Linked DNA regions of Homo sapiens. The protein of the gene in region 7 purifies or fractionates together with the protein of the main gene of each other region. This does not show direct contact. Each region holds a gene or a part of one and is shown on either strand. Other genes may lie near its edges.

Region 1 (3,500 bases), on a different chromosome or scaffold from region 7:
CTAAGCTTATGTCACAAGTGAGTGTGCCCCTCCCCCTAAGCTCATCTCACAAGTGAGTGTGCAGCTCCCCCTAAGCTCATGTCACAAGTGAGTATGTAGCTCCCTCAAGCTCATGTCACACGTGAGTGTTCAGCTCCCCTAAGGTCATTTCATGAGTGTGAAGTTCCCCTAAGTTCATTTCACGAGTGTGCAGCTCCCCCAAGCTCATGTCACAAGTGAGTGTGAAGCTCCCTAAACTCATGTCGCAAGTGAGTGTACAGCTCCCCTAAGCTTATTTTACAAGTGAGTGTGCAGCTCCCCCAAGCTCATGTCACAAGTGATTATGCGGCTCCCTCAAGCTCATGTCACAAGTGAGTGTGCAGCTCCCCTAAGCTCATGTCACAAGTGAGTGTGCAGCTCCCCTAAGCTCATTTCACAAGTGAGTGTCCCACTCTTCTCACCATCTACTGGCTTCCGTGTTCTCCCTGGAATCCTGGTGCCATGCTCTGGTGCTGACTTCTTTCTTACTGATGGCTTTAACTCTTGCCAGATGGTGACAATTCTCAAACCTGTTTCCCACTCCAGCATTTCTCATGAGCCTGAGCTCAGGTCCCCCTGCTGCCAGGACGTGCTCCGGGTGTCTCTGACTTACTCTGTCAAAACTCCCTCAGTCATCTCTTCTTTCTGCTCTTCATCTCCTCTTTCTCCCACAGTTTATGGTGCTCTTGCAGACTGGAGTCTGGTGTGTCAGGCTGAGGCTTTTGTTGGCAGGAAGTGTAGAATTTGGATCTGAATGACTGGGGCAGAGCTTGGCTGCCACAGGCCTCTGCAGGCCTGTGTTTTCCTCCTAGCCTGGATTGCCAATGTGTATTTCCCACCTGGCCTCTGGAGGCTTTTGACTCCAAGGATATAGACTCTGATCATATCTTGCCACAAGATCCTGCCTGTTTTCTCTTACCAATCTATCTCTCTAGTTCTGACCTTATTTAAGCTTATCCCATTTCCATGGTTTCCTTACCACCCTTTCTGTTTCTGGTTTCTTTCTGTCACAGGCCATGTACCACCTTGCTGCCAGAGCAGTCTTTCTTTCTTTTTCTTTTTTTTTTTTTTTTTTTTTGAGACAGAATCTCACTGCGTCGCCCAGGCTGGAGTGCAGTGGCGCGATCTCAGCTCACTGCAAGCTCCGCCTCCCAGGTTCACGCCATTCTCCTGCCTCAGCCTCCCGAGTAGCTGGGACTACAGGCCCCTGCCACTGTGCCTGGCTAACTTTTTTTTTTTTTTTTTTTTTGAGACACAGTATCACACTGTTGCCCAGGCTGGAGTGCAGTGGTACGATCTCTGCTCAGTGCAAGCTCTGCCCCCCTGGGTTCATGCCATTCTCCTGCCTCAGCCTCCCTAGTAGCTGGGACTACAGGCACCAGCCACCACGGCCGGCTAGTTTTTTTGTATTTTTAGTAGAGATGGGGTTTCACAGTGTTTGCCAGGATGGTCTCAATCTCCTGATCTCGTGATCTGCCCGCCTCGGCCTTCCAAAGTGCTGGGATTACAGGCATGAGCCACCACACCCAGCCCAGCAGTCTTTCTTAAGTACAAATTTGATCATTTTATTATATCTGAAACAGACTAAAGGCAGGTTGACTGTGAGGGGTGGCAGGAAGCTTTTGGGTGATAGATGGTGAGTGGTCTGTAGTGCTGGTTATTCCATATAGACTTTTGTCAAAGCTCATGGAAGTGTTTGTTTAAAATGGGTAAATTTATTACATATGTTATACTTCACTAGTGAAATCTTTAAAAACTATGCTGGTGGCTTCCTGTCATCTTCTGAATAAACCCTGATTCTTCTTTTTCAAGGTAAACAAGAACTTCTGGTGTGCCTTCCACCTTTCCCATACCTCCCTCCATCCTCACCTCTAACCTCTCCACTTCAAATTGCCATCTGCACCTCAGTTGCGAGCTGCCCCCTACTCGTGTGCTCTTGCCTCTGGGTCTAAAGTCTGCAGCGCCCTCACCCACCCATCCTCCCTTCTCCACACATCCTCAGGATCATCCATCAGATGGCCATGCACTCCTTAGGCATCCCATCTCCATACCTAAATTCCCTAACACCCTGCCACTTAACACCTCTTCCCTTGAGACACACACTTTCTAGAAGTGGCTGGAGGGCAGGGATGCTTAGCTTCATTTTGCATCCTCAGAGGGTTAGCTCTTTGCCTGGACAGAGAAGGTGCTTGATAATACTTGTCAAGTGAATGCATGGAAGCCACTTCTTAAGACTATTCCTGAACATAACATCTGCTCACATCTGGGTTTATTAAATTGCTTATTTCTCTACTTGTTGTCCTTCTGTTTCAGGAACTCTGATAAGACTTTTTAGAAATGAGTAGTTTACAAGGAAGAAACATACACTAGTGACTTTAAATGAGAAGGAAAAGAGTAGTTTCAGCTTCAGGAGGATAAATCTTGCATATGTGGGCTACTATAGTGCTTTTTTTTTAATTTAAAGAGATTCACTGGAGAATATTTGTGGTTAGTGATCATTCAAGGTAAAGTGTGAAGACTTGGTCAAATCAGGTACTATATATATAAATTCATAGTATTTTGTAGATGTGTACACAGAGAGAGAGACAGAGCTGGCTGTCTTCATGCTTAGCCATTTTTAGACCATTGTCCCTTCACCAGCAGGAATACGAAGTGTCCCTCTGGGTAGCCAGAACGAGCTGACTTCTGTTCCAAGGGGAGGGTGTTGAATTGAGGACTGAAGGTGGAGCAAGAGCCAAGGTCCCTCAGGGTCTTCTGTGGAGATTTGGGGCTTTTGTCAAAAGCTACTCAACATGTTTCTAATTCTTTTTCCCCATTTAGAATATATGAGTAGTATTTGTCCCCACCCTATCTTACAAAGCCTTCAGAGTGTTTTGAGGTAATGCTTACAAAGTCTCCCAGAGAAAAGCAGAGGTCCTCTACATCCAGTATCATAATGAAAAGCAAAAATAAACTTACATAGTGTGGTAGGGTGGCTCTACTCAAAGAACTAGATCAAGGAGAGGCCTGTCTTTCAGAAGTTCATACATCTAAAACATGTCTTTGTTTGTGTTACCAGGTTCAGAAGAGGAATTTCATAGAAAATATTATTCCAATTATCATCTCCCTGAAGACTGTGCTGGAGAAAAATAAGATCCCAGCTTTGCGGGAACTCATGCACTATCTCAGGGTAAGGGTGGAGCCTGTGCTTTTGTGGTTGTTGTCCTACCAGTTCATTACTTAGGATCTTCTGCCAGTTATGACAGTGCAGGCAATCCGTGAATGATTAGAACCCCAAATTCTGCAAACCCAACATTACCTTGGTAACTGCTGTGGAGCTAGGGGTTGGCTGTGGGTTCCACCAAAGCCGCTCTTTCCCTTGGATGTGCAGCCAGGGCCGTGAAGAGCCGGCCCACTGTGCCAAGCACGTCTTCCCTTAATGGAGTTCAAGTCCATCTGGAAAACTTTCCCAGCTGGGGTCAAGAACACAGTCATCTTCGTTC
Region 2 (3,500 bases), on a different chromosome or scaffold from region 7:
CATATGTGTATCTGTACCTAATACCCCACTACAACCTTGGAGAGGGCCATGTCTAAAAACAGGATGGGTTGTACAAACTAGAATTATAGTCTCTTCATGTATGGACAAGTAGACATTTATAGCTTTTTAAAAAAGAACTAATGATTATTTCAGAATAGAAAAAGAATCTTACCTTCTAGAGCTTTTAGATCCAGATAAAGAGTGGAAAAACACTGATTCTAACTTTCTGGTTTCTGTACTTGGCTTGATTTTGTCATTTCTTGTATCCCCATGAGTTTCACCTGTATCTTCTTTAAGAAACACTTTTTCTAGTGGTTTTTGTTCCTTAACTGAAGAATGACAACTACTTTCCTTCTTTCGTGTCCGTCTGACTTTCCCAATGAAGAAGTCGTCACCGCTATCACTATCTTCAGACATGGAAGACTGCTTGTAAAACCTTTCTTCTGTGCTATCATCAAAATATTCCTTCTCCTCTTCACAAAATTCTTCTCCGCCATCACTGTTACCAGAGAGTGAGCTATCAGATCCTTTGTTTTTTTTGGTTTGACTTAGAGTTTTCAGTTTTGGGTCAGCAGGTGTCTTCTGGGACTCAAGGGAAACTACAGAATCCTTTTCTGAAGGCTTTGATGGAGAATTTGCAATAGTCACTGCTTTAGGTCCATGTTCCATCTTTGCTATTTTTTCCTTTGAATTATGTATTGGTTTCTTCGCCAATATTTTGGTTTCTTTGACTTTTTGCTCACTGATGACAGTTGCTTCACGCTGTAAATTACTTCCATTATCATTTGAATACAAAGTATTCTCAGAATGATTGTCCTCTGAAGCATTCTTTGATGACTCAACTTCAGCAACATTTTGTCTTGCTTCTTTAAAGGCTTGTACAGCAGCTGCAAGAGAAACAGTGCATCACTCATTTTAGCACTGAAACATATAAAACATGACTGTTTTAGGACAGTATTTTAAAAAATTATTTGAAAAGATTTAAGAGGGCAGTTGGAATTGATATTAAATACATATACTCGGTCTGAATTCACAAAGAAATCTTTCGACTTCTTAAAAACCAAACATAAGATATGCTCAGACGTATTCATTTTAAATTGTGAAAATGAAAAGAAAATGTTTTCTTCATGTCTTGGAGTTATGAAGAACAGTAAAAACATCACAGAATACAAATAAAAGGGAATGGCAACTTTAATTTATATAATAATAATGCATTATTATAAACTGTGCTTTCAGACATAAAATTCAGTATCATGTGACAAAAAAATTTCATTTTATAGATATATTTTATAATAAACATATATAAAATTATGTTCCTAAGTGGCGAAACCAAAACTAATGAGTTATGTCAATATTTTAAAAAAACTATTCAACTTTATCTTGTATATATTATATATAAAAAGATATATATTACGTATTATACGTTCACATATTAGAATTTACTAAACAATACAGATTTGGTTTTTCTTCAGAGATCACACTTTCTGTATTTTCAGACACCTTCCACACTGGTAAATATTTGAAAGAAACTTATATTTATAATAGAACCTCAAGAGTTAAAATAAGTGAATAGCCATTATCCAAAGTCTACAAATACATTAAGTACATGGCTTAAAAGTCATTTAATTCATACCTTTTAGCACATCTATCTTTTTCTTCAGAAGAGGATGTACTGCTAGTCTGGCAATTGCTCTTTCAGTTGCAGTAGAATCTGGCTGCAAATTTAAAAATATAATAAACGTATGGGAATGAAATAAAAATGACACTATTGAAAGTGAATAAAATAAAATCTATCATAGTCTTTAAAATTAGAGTTGGAGAATAGAACTAGTTAATATTCTCCTTAGATAAGATATCTGTATAATCAATCCATGCTAAAGACAAAGATCATCCTGACAAAAATATTACTGCCTTTGAACAACTAAAATTATCACTTAATCATTAATAAATATTCTTTGGATACGATACTTAATATTCTCAGAATTGTGATAAGCACCATGTGTAACATCAAAAAAAGAACATAGTTTTTACTATCAAAGAGCTTGAACAATCTAATTAAGAAGACTAAATTAATATCAAAGAATCAAATAACATATTAGTGCTAAACTGGGTGAGACTACTGTAATACTTGAAGTTCCATTTAACAGAGACCTAGAAATTATCTAACGCTCTATATTTCTATTTTAAATGTCTACTATCACTGACACGTTCTCAGGGCCTAGACTGAATGGGAACATTATATACAGTATTCAATATATTTATAAATTTGGAAAAATCATAATGCCGGCTAATGACTTGAAATGCCGTATGAAGGCTGACAACATCTAAATTTCGACCTCCAGCTCCAACCTGAGCTCTAAGCTGATACATCAAACCACCTAACCTGACATCTATTTGACATTGTCAAAACAGAATTCTTTGATTTTTCCTCACAAATCTGCTTCTCCTGTAGCTTTTCCATCTTATTGTATGTAATTTCCATTGTTCTGGTTGCTCAGGCCTAAAACTCTAAGGATTCTTTCCCACTATTTGTCTTTCCCTCAAAACTCACAATACACCCTGTGGTTCCAAATGTAAAATATATCCAGAACCAGTCGCTTCTCACCATTTCTATTCTTACTACCTTTGACTAAATCACCAACACCTCTCACCTGGACCAACATAATTAAACTTATGCCTGGTCACTCTCCTTTGCAACTTGCTCTCTCAACAGTCAATTTTCCACACAACAGCCACGGTGATTTTTAAAAATGTAATCAAATCATGCTATTTCCATATCTGTTCTTCTTTAAGCTTTATTGCTTTCTGATGCTTAGCCCATACCATTGCAATCTCTTCTTTACCTGGAATACTCTACTCCCAAATATATACACGGCTGATCATCTCACTGTATTCAGGTCTCTGCTTAAATGTCATCTCAACTAGCACAACACTTCCCATCACTATTTACTTCACATCACTTACCACTGCATGGCAGTGTAGATGTTTTCATATCTGCAAAGCAGAGACTTTGTTTGCCTCATTGCTGTAGATTCAGTGCCTAGAATAGTGACTGGTAATAATAGTAGGCACCCAATACACATTTAATAAAGCAAGTGAATAAATTTCACTAGTGTGTGAAAGTAAAACAACCAGTTTCAAATGTCTTTATCCTAAATTTACCCTTCATTGTGAACAGTCAAATATAAGACATTTCCAACCCAGTATTATAAATGTACGAATACCAAAATAAAAACAAGATGATGGCAGTATGCAAGCTATTCTGTTTGTAGGATTTATGTGAGTAATGTCACTCAAAGAATAATCTATTTAAATTACACCTGGTGCAAATCCTGTGCCAGGACCATCTGCTATTTAATTACCTTGTGTACTAGGTTGAATCGCGTCCCCTCAAAATTCACATCCACCTGGAAACTCAGAATGTGAACTTATTTGGAAACAAAGTCTTTGCAGATTAAATTATGTGGAATCACAGTGGATCAGGGTGGTCTTAAGCCCAG
Region 3 (2,940 bases), on a different chromosome or scaffold from region 7:
AGTGTTCTCCCAGTGCTTTGTGTATCCATTACAGCATTCATCAAGATAACACATTTAACATGTCTGCCCCCACCAACTCCCCCCACACACACATATAATACCTTCATCTGTATATTCTCAGAATCTAGGTGCTTAGTATTTGTAAAGTTAAAGAATATTTTTAAGGGTCTTTTTTTCTCTTAAAACCCATCTGCTAAAAAATAAATGTATTTTTATCTGTGAGAGCTGAGGGGAAACCATTGCAATGTCTACACATTAAGGAGTATCTTATACCCCTTTATAACCCAAGTTTGTTAGACATTTATTTGCATAAGATTAAAATAATTAATTAGGTCAATAAGACCATTCCTAAAGTCTAAAGACAAAGGGCACTAATATTGCACAAACCTAAGATGGTTAAAAACCTAAAACGTGGAATTTGCTTTAAAGGAGAAGAGAACAAAAAAATATAAACTGCCCTTGAAAAGAATGATTGTATGCTTATCAAACACTCAGCCTCATTTTGGCATTTAATTAAGCCATTTATTGCTTCAAATGTGTCACCATGAACATTTTGATATACACTCCATAGCAGTAAGGCCTCAATTTTCACCACCTGTGAACTGTGAACCCACATTTGGATATTTTGTCCCAACTGTTACATGAGTTTTGTACAACAGAGATTTTGAATGTGTATTTTATAATACCAAAAATACTTACTATGCCCCTTGGTGTAAATGTCACAAAGAATATTAATAGTTGGCCACATTTTTGGGGGGTTGATGAGGTAGTTCCATGTTTGGCCCCATTATATATGACTCAGATATTAACAGGTTCTACCCATTACTAAATACCTGCACCAAATTTTGGTTTCTTTCTTTACACATGCTTCATAAAATATTCAGTGTTTGAGTTTAAAACTTGTCAAAGTGTTTTCTAAGTGATTTGGTAAGGAGTGGAATTCACACTGAAAGGGGATGTAGCAGCTGGATAACAGGATGTTCCTGACTCAGACAAAGAACTTTCTCTTCAAATAAGGCTGTACATAAGGCTTTTTCCTTTGACCATTTCTATAAAATGAATGAGTTTGGAATAGTCATAATATATAGAGGATGTAAATGATACATGTGAGCATTTCCAGGCAATATACTTTGATAAACGAATTGAATACTACATTATTTATCACTTCTTAAAGGGTTATAAAATCTCAAAATATTGAGTATCATGAAATCGTGATAATCATGATATTATGAAATGATGAGTACTCACAAATGAACCTAACTTGTTTAGGGAGCTGGTAGAGTTGTATAATCAGACTGTGGCAGCTCAGAATCATGGGATCTCAAAGGTGGAAGAGATCTTTGAAATCCCCTATCTACCTCACACCCTTTGGGTAGCACTGCATAGATTTTACACTGTTATCTGAATAAGTTCTAAGAAGCTCATAAGTGGTTTAATTAAAGCAGAAATCTGATGGACCCAGTAAGTTTCAATATAAAATATATATGATATATTAAGTATCTTAAAAGTTAAGGATTTTTCTATCGACCAGACTCAATATTATACTTTAAATAAAACCTCCACTATGCAAATTTATAATTTAAATAGCACCTTAGAATAAGATCTATTCTGCAGTCAGCATCACCCTGGTGTAGTAAGGCCCAGAGTGATACAAAATTTGAATTAACTGTCATATCAGTAAGTGGTAGAATCAAAAATAGCTCAATTTGGAGCTCCCGACCAGGGGGGTCTCTTTACTCTATTTGGCTACATTGCCTCCAGTCAAAACACCCATAACCATTATTTTCGTTTTAACTGCTATACTTACACTTCTTTCATGTCTTTTAGACTGAAGGAAAAGCCAGATGATGTTCTTAAAAAAATACATTGGCATTTCAAATTTACATTAAAAATGTCTTTCCTGTATTCTTATATCACAAACTCTAAACATCATTAAAGACATCACAGATTACACAGTATTCTGTGTCCTGGGTCTCTGATTCTTTTTAGATTATGAAAGTTGAAAGTTAATTGGAATTCAGAAATTTTCATTATTAAGTATGTAAAGTATAAATACAAGTAATTTTTTAAAAACTTTATTTTAACACCTAATACAATTGCAATTTTAAGGATTACTTGCACAAAAAAATAAACACATTTGGTATAAAAATGTATCACTTTAACGCCCTTTCCCCTTCAGTCCCCCGCCCCCTCCCTCATGAACTGCACTCTATCTGGATGCAGAAACATAGAAAGACTAATGGCACAAATTACTTTTTACCTACAGGAGTTTCTGTTTATGTACCCAGGTACTCTAGAGGATACCAGCCCACATTATCACATGAACCATTTCCTTCAGCCTGCTGAATTAGTTTCACAAAGAAACAAAGCTTATTATAAAGGCATTTTAAAAACCATTATCTTAAATTCTTTTTAGAAGCACTGACTTTTTTTTTTTTTTGCAACCATTTATATACAGTGTTACATAACAGCTCTGGAGTACAGTACATGCAGCAGAATATACCTGTTGAATATAAAATACTTTCCTTAAAATCTTCATCATTGGAATTCCTTGAAGTCTAAATCATAGAATGCCCATTACTTTGAGAAAATGGTTGAGGAGTACAAATGTCTGCATATGTTGGCCACTGAAATAATCCAAGGCTAACTGGAATAATATTCATAGCACACCAGGAGTGCATAAATAATTTACTTACATTATTAAAATACAACCCATAAAATTCAAGTTCAAGATCTTATAGGATTGTCTATGTAAATCCTTTAAGTGGTTGCCTGGAAATGCATTGTTTCTTCTTTCTCTTCTCTTCTTTTTAAAGTCCTATATAAAATCTTCAGCTGAAGTTTATTTCTTCATCAAACAAAAGGACCACCTTTATTTGTGTCTGCTGCCTCTTCTCTTCATTGCAGCAGTGCACTGTGGACAGTACCATTTGCCTTTTG
Region 4 (4,055 bases), on a different chromosome or scaffold from region 7:
TCTGGACCTGAGCCTCGGTTTCCTCTCCTTCAGAGTGGGTGTGATGAAATTTCACAGGGTTGCTAGGGGAAAGAGATCCATTCATTAAGTGCTTCTTTTGAGCACCTGCAAGTGCTAGGCACAGTCCCTGGGGCTGGGCACACAGCGGAGAGCAAGGCAGCCTAAACCCGCCCACCTCCAGGGCTTTTAAAGTCTAGTTGGGGCTGCGCGGTGGCTCACGCCTGTAATCCCAGCACTTTGGGAGGCCGAGGCGGGTGGGTCACCAGAGGTCAGGAGTTCGAGACCAGCCTGGCCAACATAGCAAAACCCCGTCTCTACTAAAAATACAAAAATTAGCCGGGTGTGGTAGCACACGCCTGTAGTACCAGCTACCAGGGAGCCTGAGGCAGGAGAATCGCTTAAATCCGGGAGGCGGAGGTTGCAGTGAGCTGAGATCGGGCCAGTGCACTCCAGCCTGGGTGACAGAGCGAGACTCTTATCTCAAAAAAAAAAAAAAAAAAAAAAAAAGAACTGTACCTGGCGCGTAGTAGGTGCTCGGTAAATTTGTTCAATGACTGAATGTGCTGGGTGCTCAGGGAAGACTCTCAGATCCCATCCCAAGAGACCAGAATGGAAAGCAGGAAATGGATTGGGGGAAAGGGAGGTCTGAAGGCAGAGAGTCCCAGGCACGGGAGCCTCCAGGCAGAGGCCCTGAGACAGGACCAAACTTAGCGTTAGGGAAAATGAAAGTAGAATCAGGAAGAACTTAGATATCTGAACACTTTGCAAACTACAAAGTGCTGCATACACGTGCGGGAAGGCGGTTTCTGCGGCTGGTTCTTTGTTTACATTATACATTTTTGAAGACTTTGTCTTCAAAATGTGGCTTTGGGGCATGCCACTCTCGGGGCCGAGTCCTTCGCGGGCAGTTTCTGCAAAGTCCAACCCTGCAGGGCCCTTCTCCCGCGCCGCGCTGTCTCGCTGCTTCCTGGAGGGTAAATGGACCCACACACAGATGTGGCGCCGCGGGCTTGCCGGTCACCTGCAGAGGCCGGCACCCCTGTCGCGATGGGTGGTGGAGGTGGGGCAGAGGTGGGACGAGCCAGGTCGGGACCCGCAGCTGGCGAGTCAGAGCCTGGAAGGCCCCGCGCCCCCGCGCCGCGCTCCCTAAGTGCTCCGCCCGGCCGGTGGCGACCAGGCGCGCTCGGGGCAGGCGGCGGGACGGGCCGGGACCGGGGCCGGGACGCGGCGGGGAGGGGAGGGGCCGGGCCGGGCCGGGCGGGAGGAGCCGCTCGCCGGTTTTGCCGCCTCCGCCTTTGCCTTCGCAGCCGCCTCCAGGTAAGGGGGCCCCGGAGGAGCCGCCAGGCCACGGTGGCGCGCACCTCGCTGGGCCACTCCCCGCCGGCCCCACGCGGGGCACTCGGAGCCCGGCCCAGCCCCGGGGCCCTTTGCCCTGCGCCCCGCCCTCCACCCCGGGGACACTGGACCCACCAGGAAGCGGCCGCGCGCTCCCTGGCGCTGCCTGCCCTAAGCCCAGGCCGCCTGCTGGTGGTTGGTTTGTTTTCAGAGCCGGAAGTGCTTTTAGAAATCTTGGGGAGGCAGAGGGGGAAACTGAGGCTGGGCGGAGCACTCGGGCGACTCCGGCCTCGGCCTCCGAGTTCTTAGAGGTCACCCAGCCGCTCCCTTGACAAATGAGGACGCTGGTCAAGGTCAGAGAGGAAGGGGGCTTGCCCAAGGTCACAAGAGGTCCCTGTGCTTCCCCTTGCCCCACGTGGCCCCTCCACGCCCCCGTCAGGAAGGCCTCTAGGACTCCCCCGCCTCCTGTCTCCCTGTCCCCCCGCAGACTCTCAAACAGAGAATTCCAGGAGGGCTTGGGGAGCCTCTGGAGAAAAACCAGGCTCCTCATGTTACAAGGAGGCCATGTCTTCTGGTGCCCATGCCTGAAGTTACAGGAGGGAAGAATTACTGCTGCTGACTTTTGAGTGGATTTTACAGCTGGGTAAACTGAGGCTCAGAGAGGTGAGGTAACTTCCCCAAGACCACACAGCTAGGAAGCAAGAGATAAAAACCTGGGCTACCTGCCTGGAGAGCCTGACCCAGTGCTTCGCACAGAGTTGGCCTCCACAATGCCTTTGCCCTGACCAGGCTGCCTGGCCCTTCCCTGGGGTTGCACTGGGAATTAGGAGCAGGGCCAGGCTAGAATCCCAGACTACTACCTAACTCGAAGTAGGAGTCAGCACATGAGCCCCCTTTTTCCTAACTCAGTGTTCATTGCAGAAAATATGACACTCTTTTAAGCTTTGGGAACATCCATTTGTTCATTCACCAAATATTTGTTGAGCACCTACTGTGTGCATTGTTTAGGCAACGAGGATACAGCAGTGAACAAAAAGGAGCGCTGCCCTCAGGAAGTACACTCCAGAGGGTGGAATAAAGCCCTGCCCTTCAGCCTGGGGAGGGAGGGCTGGGCACAGGGGAGACCACTGGCATTTCCCCAACTGTGAAGTACATGAAGACAGCAGAAGAGATCGGTATTAGAGTGGCCTCAAGCCCTCGTGTGCAGCATCAGACAGAGATGGGCTCAGGTGCTAGCTTTGCAGCTTTGTAACTGAGTGGGATCAGGCAAGTTAAATGACCTGTCTCCAAGGTTGTTGTGAAAATTAAAGGAGCTGAAGCCACAAAAGGCCCAGTGCAGTATCTGACACTTTGGGAGACTTTATACTTTTTAGTCCTAAGGCCCAAGGAGGAGTTGGACAGGAGGAGTTCATCGATTAGGTTGTCATAGCTCAGCATGTAGCTCCCACAAAAGCTGGGGTCTGGAGAGTTCCTCATAAGGCTCAAACCATCTCTCTCTACTCTGGTACCACTGGGCTACAAAGGCTGATCAGCCACCAGGGCTGGCTAACGTGGGACCTAAGAAATGTCAGTGGGTGGTTTCTCATTGTGTTCTCTTTTGGCCTGTGTGTTTTGTAAACAGTGTTGTACATTATAAACCGGGGCTGCTGATGAGGAGTGGGGAACTGGCTCTCTGGAACGTGTGACAGCAGGCAGAAGGGGTGAGAGTGAAATCCAATCCACTTTCCATTTAGCCGACCTCCGCTTCAAGCTGCCCTGATATCATGGTACCACCCTCTGCCTAAAACCCCGCTCTGGCTTCCCATTTTCTTCTTTCTCCTTTTCTTTTCTTTTCTTTTCTTTTCTTTTCTTTTCTTTTCTTTTCTTTTCTTTTCTTTTCTCTCTCTTTCTCTCTCTTTCTCTCTCTCTCCCTCCCTCCCTCCCTCTCTCCCTCCCTCTCTCTCTCTCTTTCTTTCTTCTCTCTTTTTTTTTTTTTGACAGAGTCTCACTCTGTCACCCAGGCTGGAGTGCAGTGATGCAATTTCAGCTCACTGCAACCTCCGCCTCCCAGGTTCAAGCGGTTCTCCTGCCTCAGGCTTCCAAGTAGCTGGAACTACAGGCGCCCACCATCATGCCCGGCTGATTTTTGTATTTTAGTAGAGATGGGGTTTCACCATATTGGGCTGGTCTTGAACTCCTGACCTCGTGATCTGCCCGCCTCAGCCTCCCAAAGTACTGGGATTACAGGCGTGAGCCACCGCGCCTGGCCTTGGCTTCCCACTTTCTTAAGGAAAAGAGAAAAAACCTTTTACATGGACCAGAAGGCTATGTACCACTGTCCCCTGGCCTACACCTCCAGCCGCATCTCAGACCACTTATCAACAGCCCTCTGTGCCCAGGCATGCCACCCCTCCCTCCTTGGGACCTTTGCACCTGCTCTTCCAGGCCACTTCTACCCCCTGCCTCCCTTTTCCCAGGTAACATCTTCTCATTCTTCACATTTTAGCCCTAGCCAGACTTGTACTCCAAATGCCCAGGCCACAAGACTTCTACTGGTATGTCAGAGGTTAAGTTCAGGGTGGAATTATACTCTCATTGCTGGGATTAATTCCTGCCTGTACCCTGTACACCACCCTGACTGTAACCCCTGTGACATCCAGGACCAGGGCCAAGTTTGCTTAGTAGGTGCTCAATAATGATGTCCACCTATAGGGAGGCCCTCTTGAGCATATTGGGGACCT
Region 5 (3,500 bases), on a different chromosome or scaffold from region 7:
TATATAACATTTTATTCTCCATGGAAGCTTTGTCTGAATAATGTCATATGCCTTACTACTAAGAAAGGTGCATGAGTGTTACAGCTCTATTAGAATTTGTCTAGCAGGTTTTCTGGTCTTCACTGGAAAGCACCCCCCTCACCCACTGCCACCCAAAAGGTGTATGTGTGATCAATGAAAAGTAAGAATCAATGGTAATACTTTTCTGTTTGAAAACACTGGAGAAATTATCAGATGAGGCTTCAGGAGACCCTGAAAATTTGAATACCTTAAGGATCTTAAGTCCTTTTTACTGGCCAACATGGCGAAACCCCACCTCTACTAAAAATACAAAAATCAGCTGGGCATGGTGGCATGTGCCTGTAGTCCCAGCTACTCGGAAGGCTGAGGCAGGAGAATCGCTTAAACCCGGGAGGCAGAGGTTGCAGTGAGCTGAGATCACGCCACTGCCCTCCAGCTTGGGCAACAGAGCGAGACTCTGTCTCAAAAAAAAGAAAAAAAAATCCTTTTTATTTTTATTTTTTTCTTTTCTTTTTGGAAACGGAGTCTCGCTCTGCTGCCTAGGCTGGAGTGCAATGGCGTAATCTCGGCTCACTGCAACCTCCACCTCCCGGGTTCACGCCATTCTCCTGCCTCAGCCTCCCGAGTAGCTGGGACTACAGGCACACGCCACCATGCCTGGCTAATTTTTTATAGTTTAGTAGAAACGGGGTTTCACCATGTTGGCCAGGCTGGTCTTGAACTCCGGACCTCAGGTGATCCGCCCACCTTGGCCTTCCAAAGTGCTGGAATTACAGGCATGAGCCACGGTGCCCGGCCGAGACATTTTCAAATAATTATACTAGTATTATCATTATGCTAAACTTCATTCAGTGCCTCGGTTGTATCATGGACTTTTTTAAAGCATCTAAAATGAGAATAATTTACCTACAGTCTATTTGGCCTCTTTTTTAATTTCTCTTCTATATAACAATTTCTTCTAAAAAAAAAAACCAGCCAAGACAAATAGATCAATGGGACAGAACAGAAAGGCCAGAAATAGACCCAGATAAATAGAGTCAACTGAACTTTGACAAAGGAGCAAAGGCTTTAAATGGAAAAAAAAATACAGTTTCTTTTTTCTTTTTTTTTTTTTTAATTGGAACAAGTGTCAGTAGAAAAGACAGTTTTTTCAACAAATGGTGCTGGAACAACTGGCATGCACATGTGAAAAAATGAATCTAGACACAGACCTTGCACCTTGCACAAAAATTAACTTGAAATGGATCATAAACCTAACTGTCAAATACAAAACTATAAAACTCCTACAAGTTAACATAGTAGAAAATTGAGATGACCTCTTAAAAGCAATGACCTTTTAAATACAACAGCAAAGGCATGATCTATGAAAGAAATAGTTAAAAACCTGGACCTTATTAAAATTAAGAATGTCTGCTCTGCAAAAGAAACTGTCAAGAGAATGAGAAGACAAACTACAGAATGAGAGAAAATATTTGTAAAAGACATATCTGAAAAAGGACTAATATCCAAAATATACAAAGAACTCTTTAAACTCAATAAGAAAATGAACAACCTGACTTAAAAATGGGCAAAAGACCTTAACAGATAGGTCTACCAAAGAAGAATACCCTACCAAAGAAGATATACAGATGGCAAATAAGCATAGGAAGACATACTCAATGTCATAAGTCATTAGGGAATTGCAATTTTTTCTTTTTTTTGAGACAGAGTCTTGCTCTATTGCTCAGGCTGGAGTGCAATGGCACAATCTTGGCTCACTGCAACCTCCACCTCCCAGGTTCAAGCGATTCCCCCACCTCAGCCTCTTGAGTAGCTGGGACTCCAGGTGCGGCCACCATGCCTGGCTAATTTTTGTATTTTTAGTAGAGTCAGGGTTTTGCCATGTTGCCGGGGCTGGCCTCAAACTCCTGACCTCATGTGATCCGCCCACCTCAGCCTCCCAAAATGCTGGGATTACAGGCGTGAGCCACCACACCAGGCTTCCCACCCACCCCTCTTTGCATCCACAGAGTTCTCAATCCTGGGCATGGCAGAAGCACCTTGATCCCTCCCTGATCAAGGGTGTGACCTGGGATCCCTGGCCTCGGGCTGGACAACCAGGTGCCCACAACCTGTATGGGGGTATTTACTCATTGAACATCTAGCCCCTGGGGTTGTCCAGGGAAATGCACTGGGTGGCAGCAGCTATGTGAGGAGTTTGTTTCTGTTTTCTTTTTTTTGAGACGGAATTTTGCTCTTGTCACCCAGGCTGGAGTGCAATGGCATGATCTCAGCTCACTGCATCCTCCGCCTCCCACGTTCAAGCGATCCTCCTGCCTCAGCCTTTCAAGTAGCTGGGATGACAGGTGCCCGCCACCATACCCGGCTAATTTTTTTATATTTTTAGTAGAGATGGGGTTTTGCCATTTTGGCCAGGCTGGTCTCGAACTCCTGACCTCAGGTGATCTTCCCACCTCAGCCTCCCAAAGTGCTGGGATTACAGGCATGAGCCACCGTGCCCAGCTGAGGAGCCTTTTTTTTTTGAGAGGGAGTTTCACTCTTGTTGCCCAGGCTGGAGTGCAATGGTGTGATCTCAGCTCACTGCAACTTCTGCCTCTTGGGTTCAAGCAATTCTCCTGCCTCAGCCTCCCGAGTAGCTGATCTGGTCTGGAACTCCTGACCTCAGGTGATCCTCCTGCCTCGGCCTCCCAAAGCACTGGGATTATAGGCGTGAGCCACTGGCACCTGGCCAAAGCTCTGAAAATCTTTAACGATGTGTATAAATGAGCACAATGAAGACAATTCCAGAAATAGATGGTTTAATCTCAAAAGCAAAAGAATTAGAGAGAACTAGTCAGCTTAGTTAACTGGAAAGTCATTTTCTTTTTAAGTTGTAAAATTGGAGGCACTGTGGTTTGCAAGTAAGGGCTTTTTTAGCCAGTTTGATCACCTGCATACAAGCAGTTGAAGGATGCCTCTCCACTCTAGGGAAATTCTGATAAAAGACTGGATTACCTAGAGGATAATCAAGTGAAAGCCTGTGAAAACAAGAAGCATGGCTCTCCTTTGCCCCTGATAACACATGACTAACATTCACAACACTCCCATGGGTGTGCCCAGATCTGGAGGTTGCTCACTATGGGTGAGGGCAGTGTTTTTCAACTTTTTGAGCTCATGCCCTTTTGAAAAAACAAAACAAAACAAAACAAAACAAAACAAAACAAAACAAATCATGCCTCCTTCATTAGACATCACCTTTCCTTTCTTCCTTTTATTCTTTCTTCCTTCCATTTATCCATCCATTCAAAAACTGTTAATTAAGTACCTACTGTGGCAGGTTTATTAAATATGGCAGAAAGTAAGACATCTCTAAATGAGGCTGCTTGAAAGCAACAGCAATTAAGAAGGATTGTCTGCTCTTTGGAGTTCTATATAACAGCTTGAAATAATGGGAATTTTCCCAAGCAGTTCTATAGAGCACCCAAATTGGGCTCGGTGAA
Region 6 (3,500 bases), about 76 Mb from region 7:
TTAAGGAAAATATAAATAACCAAAAATTTTAATAGACAAATGAATAACACAGATGAATCCTGAAAAATTACACTCAACCAGTGGTGCTGATTTTGCCATCCAGGAGACATTTGGCAATGTCTGGAAGTATTTTAGGTTGTCACAAAGGGGTAGGGTCAGGGATGCATCCTACAGTGCATAGGACAGCCCTCCACAAAAAAGGATTATCCTGTCCAAAACGGCTGTAGTGCCAACACTGAGAAACCCTGTGCTAAGTGCAAAAAGCCATACATATTAAGAATACATATTGTATGTTTCCACTTATTAAAAAATTCTAGAAAAGGCAAAATTACAGAGCCATTCCGAAAGCAAGTAAGGGCTATCTTGAGCTTGGTGTGGGAATAGAGACAGACTGCAAAATAGGCACATGAGAACTTTCGGGGGGTGACAGAAAGCTTCCAAAGCTGGATTGTAGTAATGGCTGCAAAACTATACAGATTTACTAAAACTCACAAAATTATATGGGTGAATTTTGTGGTATATAAATTATACCTCAAAATAGAGCTTTTTTTTTTTAATTGGGCAAATAACCAGGAATTCCACCAAAAAAAGATACCCAAATATTGAATAAGCACATAAAAAGGCACTCAACTTCATTAGTCATCAGGAAAATGTAAATAAAACCACTTATACTCAACAGAATGGCTAACAAAAAACATTAAAGATAATATTAATAACAATACCAAGTGTAAGTGAAGACACAGAGCAACTGGGAAAACTCCCATACCCTACTGATGGGAGTGTAAATTGGTACAACCGCTTTGGAAGATATGTATAACCTATGACCTAGAAAATTCCTTCCCGGTATATATCCAACAGAAATAATGGCACATGTGCACCAAAAGGCACAAGAATATTCATGAATCGTATTTTTTGGTTTTTAATTTAAAAAATTTAAGGCTGGACATGGTGGCTCACACCTGTAATCTTAGCAATTTGGGAGGCCGAGGTGGGCAGATCACTTGAGCCTAAGAATTTGAGACCAGCCTGGGCAACATGGCAAAATCCCGTCTCTACAAAAAATATAAAAATTAGCTGGGCATGGTAGCAGGTGCCTACAGTCCCAGCTACTTGGGAGGCTGGGGTGGGAGGATCACCTGAGCCTGGGGAGTTGATCGCGCCACTGCACTCCGGCCTGGATGACAGAGGTGAGACTCTGTCTCAAGAAAAAATAATAATAATAAAACAAATAAAGATGGGGTCTCCCTATGTTGCCCAGGCTGGTCTTGAACTCCTGGGCTCAAGTGACCCTCCCACCTTGGCATCCCAAAGTGCTGGGATTACAGGCGTGAGCCCCTGCACCGGGCCGTGAATCATATTTTTAACATACAAAAAGTGAAAACAATCCAAATACTACAGAATGGATAAACTATAATATTTCATAAAATACCATAAAGCAAAGAAAAAGATCAAATTACTACTACATGCAACAACATGGATGAAACTCATTCATATAATGTTTGGCAAAAGAAGCCCAACACAAAGGAATATATTAAATGATTACAGGATTAAAAGAATCATGTAAATGATTATATGAAGCCCAAAAACATACCAATAAGACTGCAGTAGTCTAAGAGATGATAGCAGCTTTGACTAGTGAAATGACAGTGAAGAAAGAAAGAAGTATTTTTGAGAAATATTTAGTAGGTAGAATTAACAGGCCTTGGTGTTTAATTAGGTTTGGCGGGGAAGGCAGCAACAGGTGTTAAAAATGACCTCTAGGTCTCTGGCCTATGCAACTGGTAGATGGAAGTGGTAATTACTGAGTGGGAAGACAGAAGGAGCAAATTTGTGACTGACATCATGAGCTGAATTAGTTCATGTTTTGGACTTGCAGTTTAAGGTATCTGTGAGACATCCAAGCAGAAATCTCTAATAGACAGTTGGATGTGTGGATCTGGAGTTCAAAAGGGAGGTCTTAGGGTAAAGATAGAAATTGCACTTAGATGGTAATTGAAGCCATGGGAGAAGACCGGTTCTCTTAAGAAAAGGAGAAGGTGGCCTATACCCAAGCCCTGTGGAATTCCCACACCTTAAAGTCAGAAAGAGGAAGAACCAGCAAAGGAGTGTGACGAACAGACACAGAGGTGGAAGGAAAATCAAGAGTATGGTGACTTAAAAGCCAAAAGACGGGCCAGGTGAGATGGCTCACACCTGTAATCCCAGCACTTTGGGAGGCCGAGGCGGGTGGATCATGAGGTCAAGAGATCGCGACCATCCTGGCCAACATGGTGAAACCCTGTCTCTACTAAAAAAAAAAAAAAAAAAAAAAAATAGAAAAAATTAGCCGGGCGTGGTAGCAGGCACCTGTAGTCCCACCTACTCGGGAGGCTGAGGCAGGAGAATGGCGTGAACCCGGGAGGCAGAGCTTGCAGTGAGCCGAGATCGCGCCACTGCACTCCAGCCTGGGCGACAGAGCGAGACTCCATCTCAAAAAAAAAAAAAGGCCAAAAGATGAACTTTTTTTTTTTTTTTTTTTTTTTTTTGAGACGGAGTCTCGCTCTGTGGCCCAGGCGGGAGTGCAGTGGCGCAATCTCGGCTCACTGCAAGCTCCGCCTCCCGGGTTCACGCCATTCTCCTGCCTCAGCCTCCCGAGTAGCTGGGACTACAGGCGCCCGCCATCACGCCCGGCTAATTTTTTTTTTGTATTTTTAGTAGAGACGGGGTTTCACCGTGTTAGCCAGGATGGTCTCGATCTCCTGACCTCGTGATCCACCCGCCTCGGCCTCCCAAAGTGCTGGGATTACAAGCGTGAGCCACCGCGCCCGGCCAAGATGAACTTTTTAAAGGAAAGAATGGCCAAGTATCTCAAATGGTAATGACAGGTCAAGTAAGATGGTAAGTGTCCCCTGAATTTAGGGACATGAAGAATCTTAAGACCATGGCAAGAGTCATTATTGGGGGAAGTGGTGGGTGGAGGCTGTCAAATAAATAATACAAGAAAATGTCACAGAACTGAAGGACATAAGTCTTTGGATTGAAAGGACCAACCAAGAGCACAGCAAAACGAAAGAAGAAGAAAAGACCTATATCAAAGTACATCACCACGAACAGAGGATAAAAGAAAATCCTAAAGGCTATTAAGAGAAAAAGATGGCAAAGGATCCAGGAAGCCAAATGGCATCAGACATTCAACAGCAACTCTTGCAGCCAAAAGATAATGAATGGAAGAAAGTCTTCAAAACTAACAAATTCTAAATCTTAAAAATTCTTTAAAAACTTACTTTTGAACTAGAATTATATATATTAAGTTGTGACCTTATAATAAAGACATATTTAGACAGGCAAGTTCTTAAAAAATATGTTTTCCATGGATCCTTTCTCAGAAGGCTACTAAAGGTTGTACACAACAAAAACAAGGAGGAAATTCTAACAGGAAAAACAAAGTATTTAAAACATCCTTGAAGTAGTTTGTGTTCCCACTTCTAGGGAAAAAAACTGTAACTCATTATTAAGATAGT
Region 7 (3,500 bases):
AGAAAAAAAAAAAAGAATGAACCTATTTAACAAGCCTTTACTTCCGGGCCCAATTCCTTCTCTCTCTTGTCTTTCTACCATCCTTGGACTATGGATTCAAGGTACCTAAGATTATACAAAGCAGCTCAGCCCACCACCTGTTTTATTAAATAAAGTTTTATTGAAACACAGCAGGCCTATTTGCTTACGTATTGCCACATGGCCCACTTCAGGATTGGACTATTTCCTATCTGGCTCTTTAAGAAAAAGTTTGCAGTCTGCTGATGCAAAGTAACCTAAAGAAAAGTAAAAGTAAAAACATGTATCAAACCTCAACTTAGCTACCAGTCCCACTGCTGTAAATGAGGGTTTGTTATGGGACAAGCAGAAGCTCCCCCAGATATAAAAATGTTAGAATAACCTGTAAGAGGTTTATAAGATTGGAGAAGAATTCAAACCAGGGGCGTGAGGGGCTTCAGCAAGACAGTAGGGAGGATCTGCAGTCATTTATAACCCCAGAAGAGAAACTTAAGAGGAAAGTAACGTTTCAATGTAAACCACTTTGAACATTCACCACTCTTCCACAGATACACTTACATAAATTTGAAAGCCTTTCCTTCCAGATCCTTACCACCACAGAAACTAATCCCCACCCTGCCATGCTTAAGTGAAGAATTAACAGATTTAAAGTAAATGTTCTGAACAGATAAATTTATAAAATAAATAATTTTTCTCTTTACAAAAATTCTCTCTGCCTCTAAGTTTCTTACAAAACCTGCCTTGGATTTTAAAATTATTCAATTTGCATATTTACTCACCTTTTCAAGAACAATAATATAAATTAAAAGCTGTTTAAAGCAAAGTGAACTTGCTATATAAAGCAGATTATAACTTTGATAACATGAGACAAGTCAATATTGTAGTCCATTAATCATTAATGAAACGGTATATGGATGCCCAGTGATCTTTTTTGATCACTATGCTCAAGTAATCAAAACCCAAATTTGCAGGGAAAAAAAAAGTAATCAACTAGAAGCCAAAAGATGTAACTACTATGCATATCATAGTAAAATGATTACTATGTGTATCAGTAAAAGTGTCACCACTTTTAGGAAGCAATTGGTAATATATATAATAAGAAACTAGAAATGCTCTTCATAGCCTTGTACTAGTACCTATTTCAGACAATCTGATTCATACTCAATAAAAAATGTATATTTTTAAATGACAAATCATTATGAGAACGTATCCTAGCTATCTGCTTACATGCAAAAAATGACAAATTAGTAATATTCAAATTATTCAGTATCCAGATACATTATAACTTTGAGAACTGCACCATGTTAAGCATTTAACTTTTAGTAGTACAGACTATCTGTTTTAGAGAGAAAGAAAAAAAAAAAAGAAGGAAAAGCCATTACTGAAAAGACAAGCCTTGGATTTGGAACAGTGAATTACTGAATTTGGAAATTTAAGAAGCAGCTATTTTTCTATACAGTGAATTAGTGAATTTGGAAATTTAAGAAGCAGCTATTTTTCCATACATGGAACACTGTTCTATATTCATAACAAATAGTTTGAGGCAAGGACCAAGTATGAAATATTTTAGCCCCAAGACTTTTTGATAACAGGAAGAAAGTTTATTCTATTTGCATAAGGAAACTGTATCCATAACTTCCAGAGCTGGCAGAAAAACAAGTGAACATGAACTTTGTTCTCTCTGGTCTTCATTGAGATCAACTTCAAAAACTGCCTTAATGAAACACAACATAAAAATCAGAACTGCAATTCCAGTTAAAATATCCATAAATCCTGATGTTTTAAAAGTAAAAACCATAGCAAGAAAGTTTTAATGTTGAAATATTACACTTGACTTTGAAACTTTGCTTGTGAATATTTATTAATAATTAGGCCAGATGTTTAGAGGCTTGCCATTTTTGGATTCACTTACAAAAGTGTTTAAATAGGTGTTATAATTTAGGGGGTGGAGGGAACCATGTGCAATAGCATCGCATCAGGATTTATAGTAACTATAAAGTGTATATGCTTAAATAGAAGTTAGATTGTTGCTTGTGTTTGTTTTCAAAACAGGAATATGTGGTAGGTATAATAACATCTTTGTAAGATAAATGAAGCACAGCTTTTTGTCTCTATCCTGTAGTTTTATTTTCTGATGGGGGAAGGAGAGAAGAAATTACTGAAAGATATATAGATAAACTCAGGGCTAGGAAAGATCTAGAAAGGCTTAATAATAGATGTAGGGAGTGAAAGTGAAGCAAGGACATAGGAAAAGGCAGTAGAAGAAAACAAGGTCATGATGAGTATGCACTTTCAGGAGGTAGGAGGGGCAGGGCTATGCTTAATTATTCTATTTCATCCTAGAAGAAGCTTCCAAGTAGGAGAGAAACTCATTTTATAAATAAAACTATAGAAGAATTAGGCAACTATGGATTCATATATTTCTAATACAGAGGAAACGCCTTCCTAAATACGTTACACCCAAATGCCATGATGAAAATAGCTGATCCAACCATATAAATATTAAAACCTTGAAATGACAAGAACACCCTTTACCTCCTCTTCACCTCCCCATCCCCATATTCATCCTTAACAATATTGGAAGGTAAATGACAAACTGGAAAAAAAAATCTGTAGCATATGGCAGTATTACACACACACACAAGAACACAAACATATATTCAACTGATACATGATTTTAAAGGCAAATGATAGCTTAGAAAATTGTACCACATGACAAAGAGCTAATAATTTTATTATATAAAGACTTTAATGAAGAAAAAGATGAATGCTAACGTATAAAATGGGTAAAATATGTAAAAAGAAAACTTATTTTTTAAAATGATCAATAAACAGGCAAAAATCTCTTATCAAAAGAAATGCAAATATAAGTAAAACAGCAACACTCAGAGGCAAAAACAGAAAGAATGATAACAGTAGAGATAAGGATGTGGCAGAATGAATATGAATACAATTGGTGGGAGTATAAACTGAAAAAAAAGGCTTTTTGGTGTACATTAATGTGAAGACTTCATATTCATTTCTACTTCCAGCTACACATTCTAAAGTAACTGGACAAGTACACACAGACGTATAAATCAGGATGCTCAAAGAGCTGTAATCTTTGTGAAAAGCTGGCAAAAATGTAAGTATCTCTCACTGAAGGCTGACTAAAGTACAGCTATGAAACGGAATACTAGCTGGCCATCTAAACGGATACAGCACATACTATGAGTGGGGGTGAGGTGGTAGGAAAGGAGGACAAACAGGTTTAAAAATGTAAGATATAATATAATCCCTTTGTTTTGGAAAACTCACATACTGGTATGTATAGTGGTATGTATACATATCCCTTGATATTTTAAAGAATGCTCACTAAAATGTATTCAGTGGTATACTTTTATAGATGTTCTTCTCTGCTCTTCTTATTGTCTCAATTATCCCTTTTAGAATGACCCTGTATTATTCTTACAGCCAGGGGGAAAACCTCTCTTCTTTAAAAA

What was found.
Region 1: the proteins of RAB18 (region 7) and NCAPD3 purify together in Homo sapiens (co-immunoprecipitation; one large-scale study listed by IntAct). This does not show direct contact.
Region 2: the proteins of RAB18 (region 7) and SRFBP1 purify together in Homo sapiens (affinity purification with mass spectrometry; one large-scale study listed by BioGRID and IntAct). This does not show direct contact.
Region 3: the proteins of RAB18 (region 7) and ING3 purify together in Homo sapiens (co-immunoprecipitation; one large-scale study listed by IntAct). This does not show direct contact.
Region 4: the proteins of RAB18 (region 7) and TMCO4 purify together in Homo sapiens (affinity purification with western blotting, with the first as the bait; one study listed by BioGRID). This does not show direct contact.
Region 5: the proteins of RAB18 (region 7) and TANGO6 purify together in Homo sapiens (co-immunoprecipitation; one large-scale study listed by IntAct). This does not show direct contact.
Region 6: the proteins of RAB18 (region 7) and SLK purify together in Homo sapiens (co-immunoprecipitation; one large-scale study listed by IntAct). This does not show direct contact.

Annotation. Positions count from the first base shown.
Region 1 is NC_000011.10:134,161,468-134,164,967, reverse strand, and holds part of NCAPD3 (condensin-2 complex subunit D3), read left to right. Parts: intron 1-3,076; coding exon 3,077-3,187; intron 3,188-3,500.
Region 2 is NC_000005.10:122,017,475-122,020,974, reverse strand, and holds part of SRFBP1 (serum response factor-binding protein 1), read right to left. Parts: intron 1,716-3,500; coding exon 1,634-1,715; intron 888-1,633; coding exon 173-887; intron 1-172. UniProt on the Homo sapiens protein: May be involved in regulating transcriptional activation of cardiac genes during the aging process. May play a role in biosynthesis and/or processing of SLC2A4 in adipose cells.
Region 3 is NC_000007.14:120,974,777-120,977,716, reverse strand, and holds the end of ING3 (inhibitor of growth protein 3), read right to left. Parts: coding exon 2,873-2,940; 3' UTR 501-2,872; downstream 1-500. UniProt on the Homo sapiens protein: Component of the NuA4 histone acetyltransferase (HAT) complex which is involved in transcriptional activation of select genes principally by acetylation of nucleosomal histones H4 and H2A.
Region 4 is NC_000001.11:19,797,117-19,801,171, reverse strand, and holds the start of TMCO4 (transmembrane and coiled-coil domain-containing protein 4), read left to right. Parts: upstream 1-1,255; 5' UTR 1,256-1,317; exon of another isoform or gene 1,318-1,670; coding exon of another isoform or gene 1,671-1,688; intron 1,689-1,822; exon of another isoform or gene 1,823-1,998; intron 1,999-2,956; 5' UTR 2,957-3,035; exon of another isoform or gene 3,036-3,098; coding exon of another isoform or gene 3,099-3,101; intron 3,102-4,055.
Region 5 is NC_000016.10:68,923,531-68,927,030, reverse strand, and holds part of TANGO6 (transport and Golgi organization protein 6 homolog), read right to left. Parts: intron 1-3,500.
Region 6 is NC_000010.11:103,973,640-103,977,139, reverse strand, and holds part of SLK (STE20-like serine/threonine-protein kinase), read right to left. Parts: intron 1-3,500. UniProt on the Homo sapiens protein: Mediates apoptosis and actin stress fiber dissolution.
Region 7 is NC_000010.11:27,528,304-27,531,803, reverse strand, and holds part of RAB18 (ras-related protein Rab-18), read right to left. Parts: intron 276-3,500; coding exon of another isoform or gene 189-275; intron 1-188. UniProt on the Homo sapiens protein: The small GTPases Rab are key regulators of intracellular membrane trafficking, from the formation of transport vesicles to their fusion with membranes.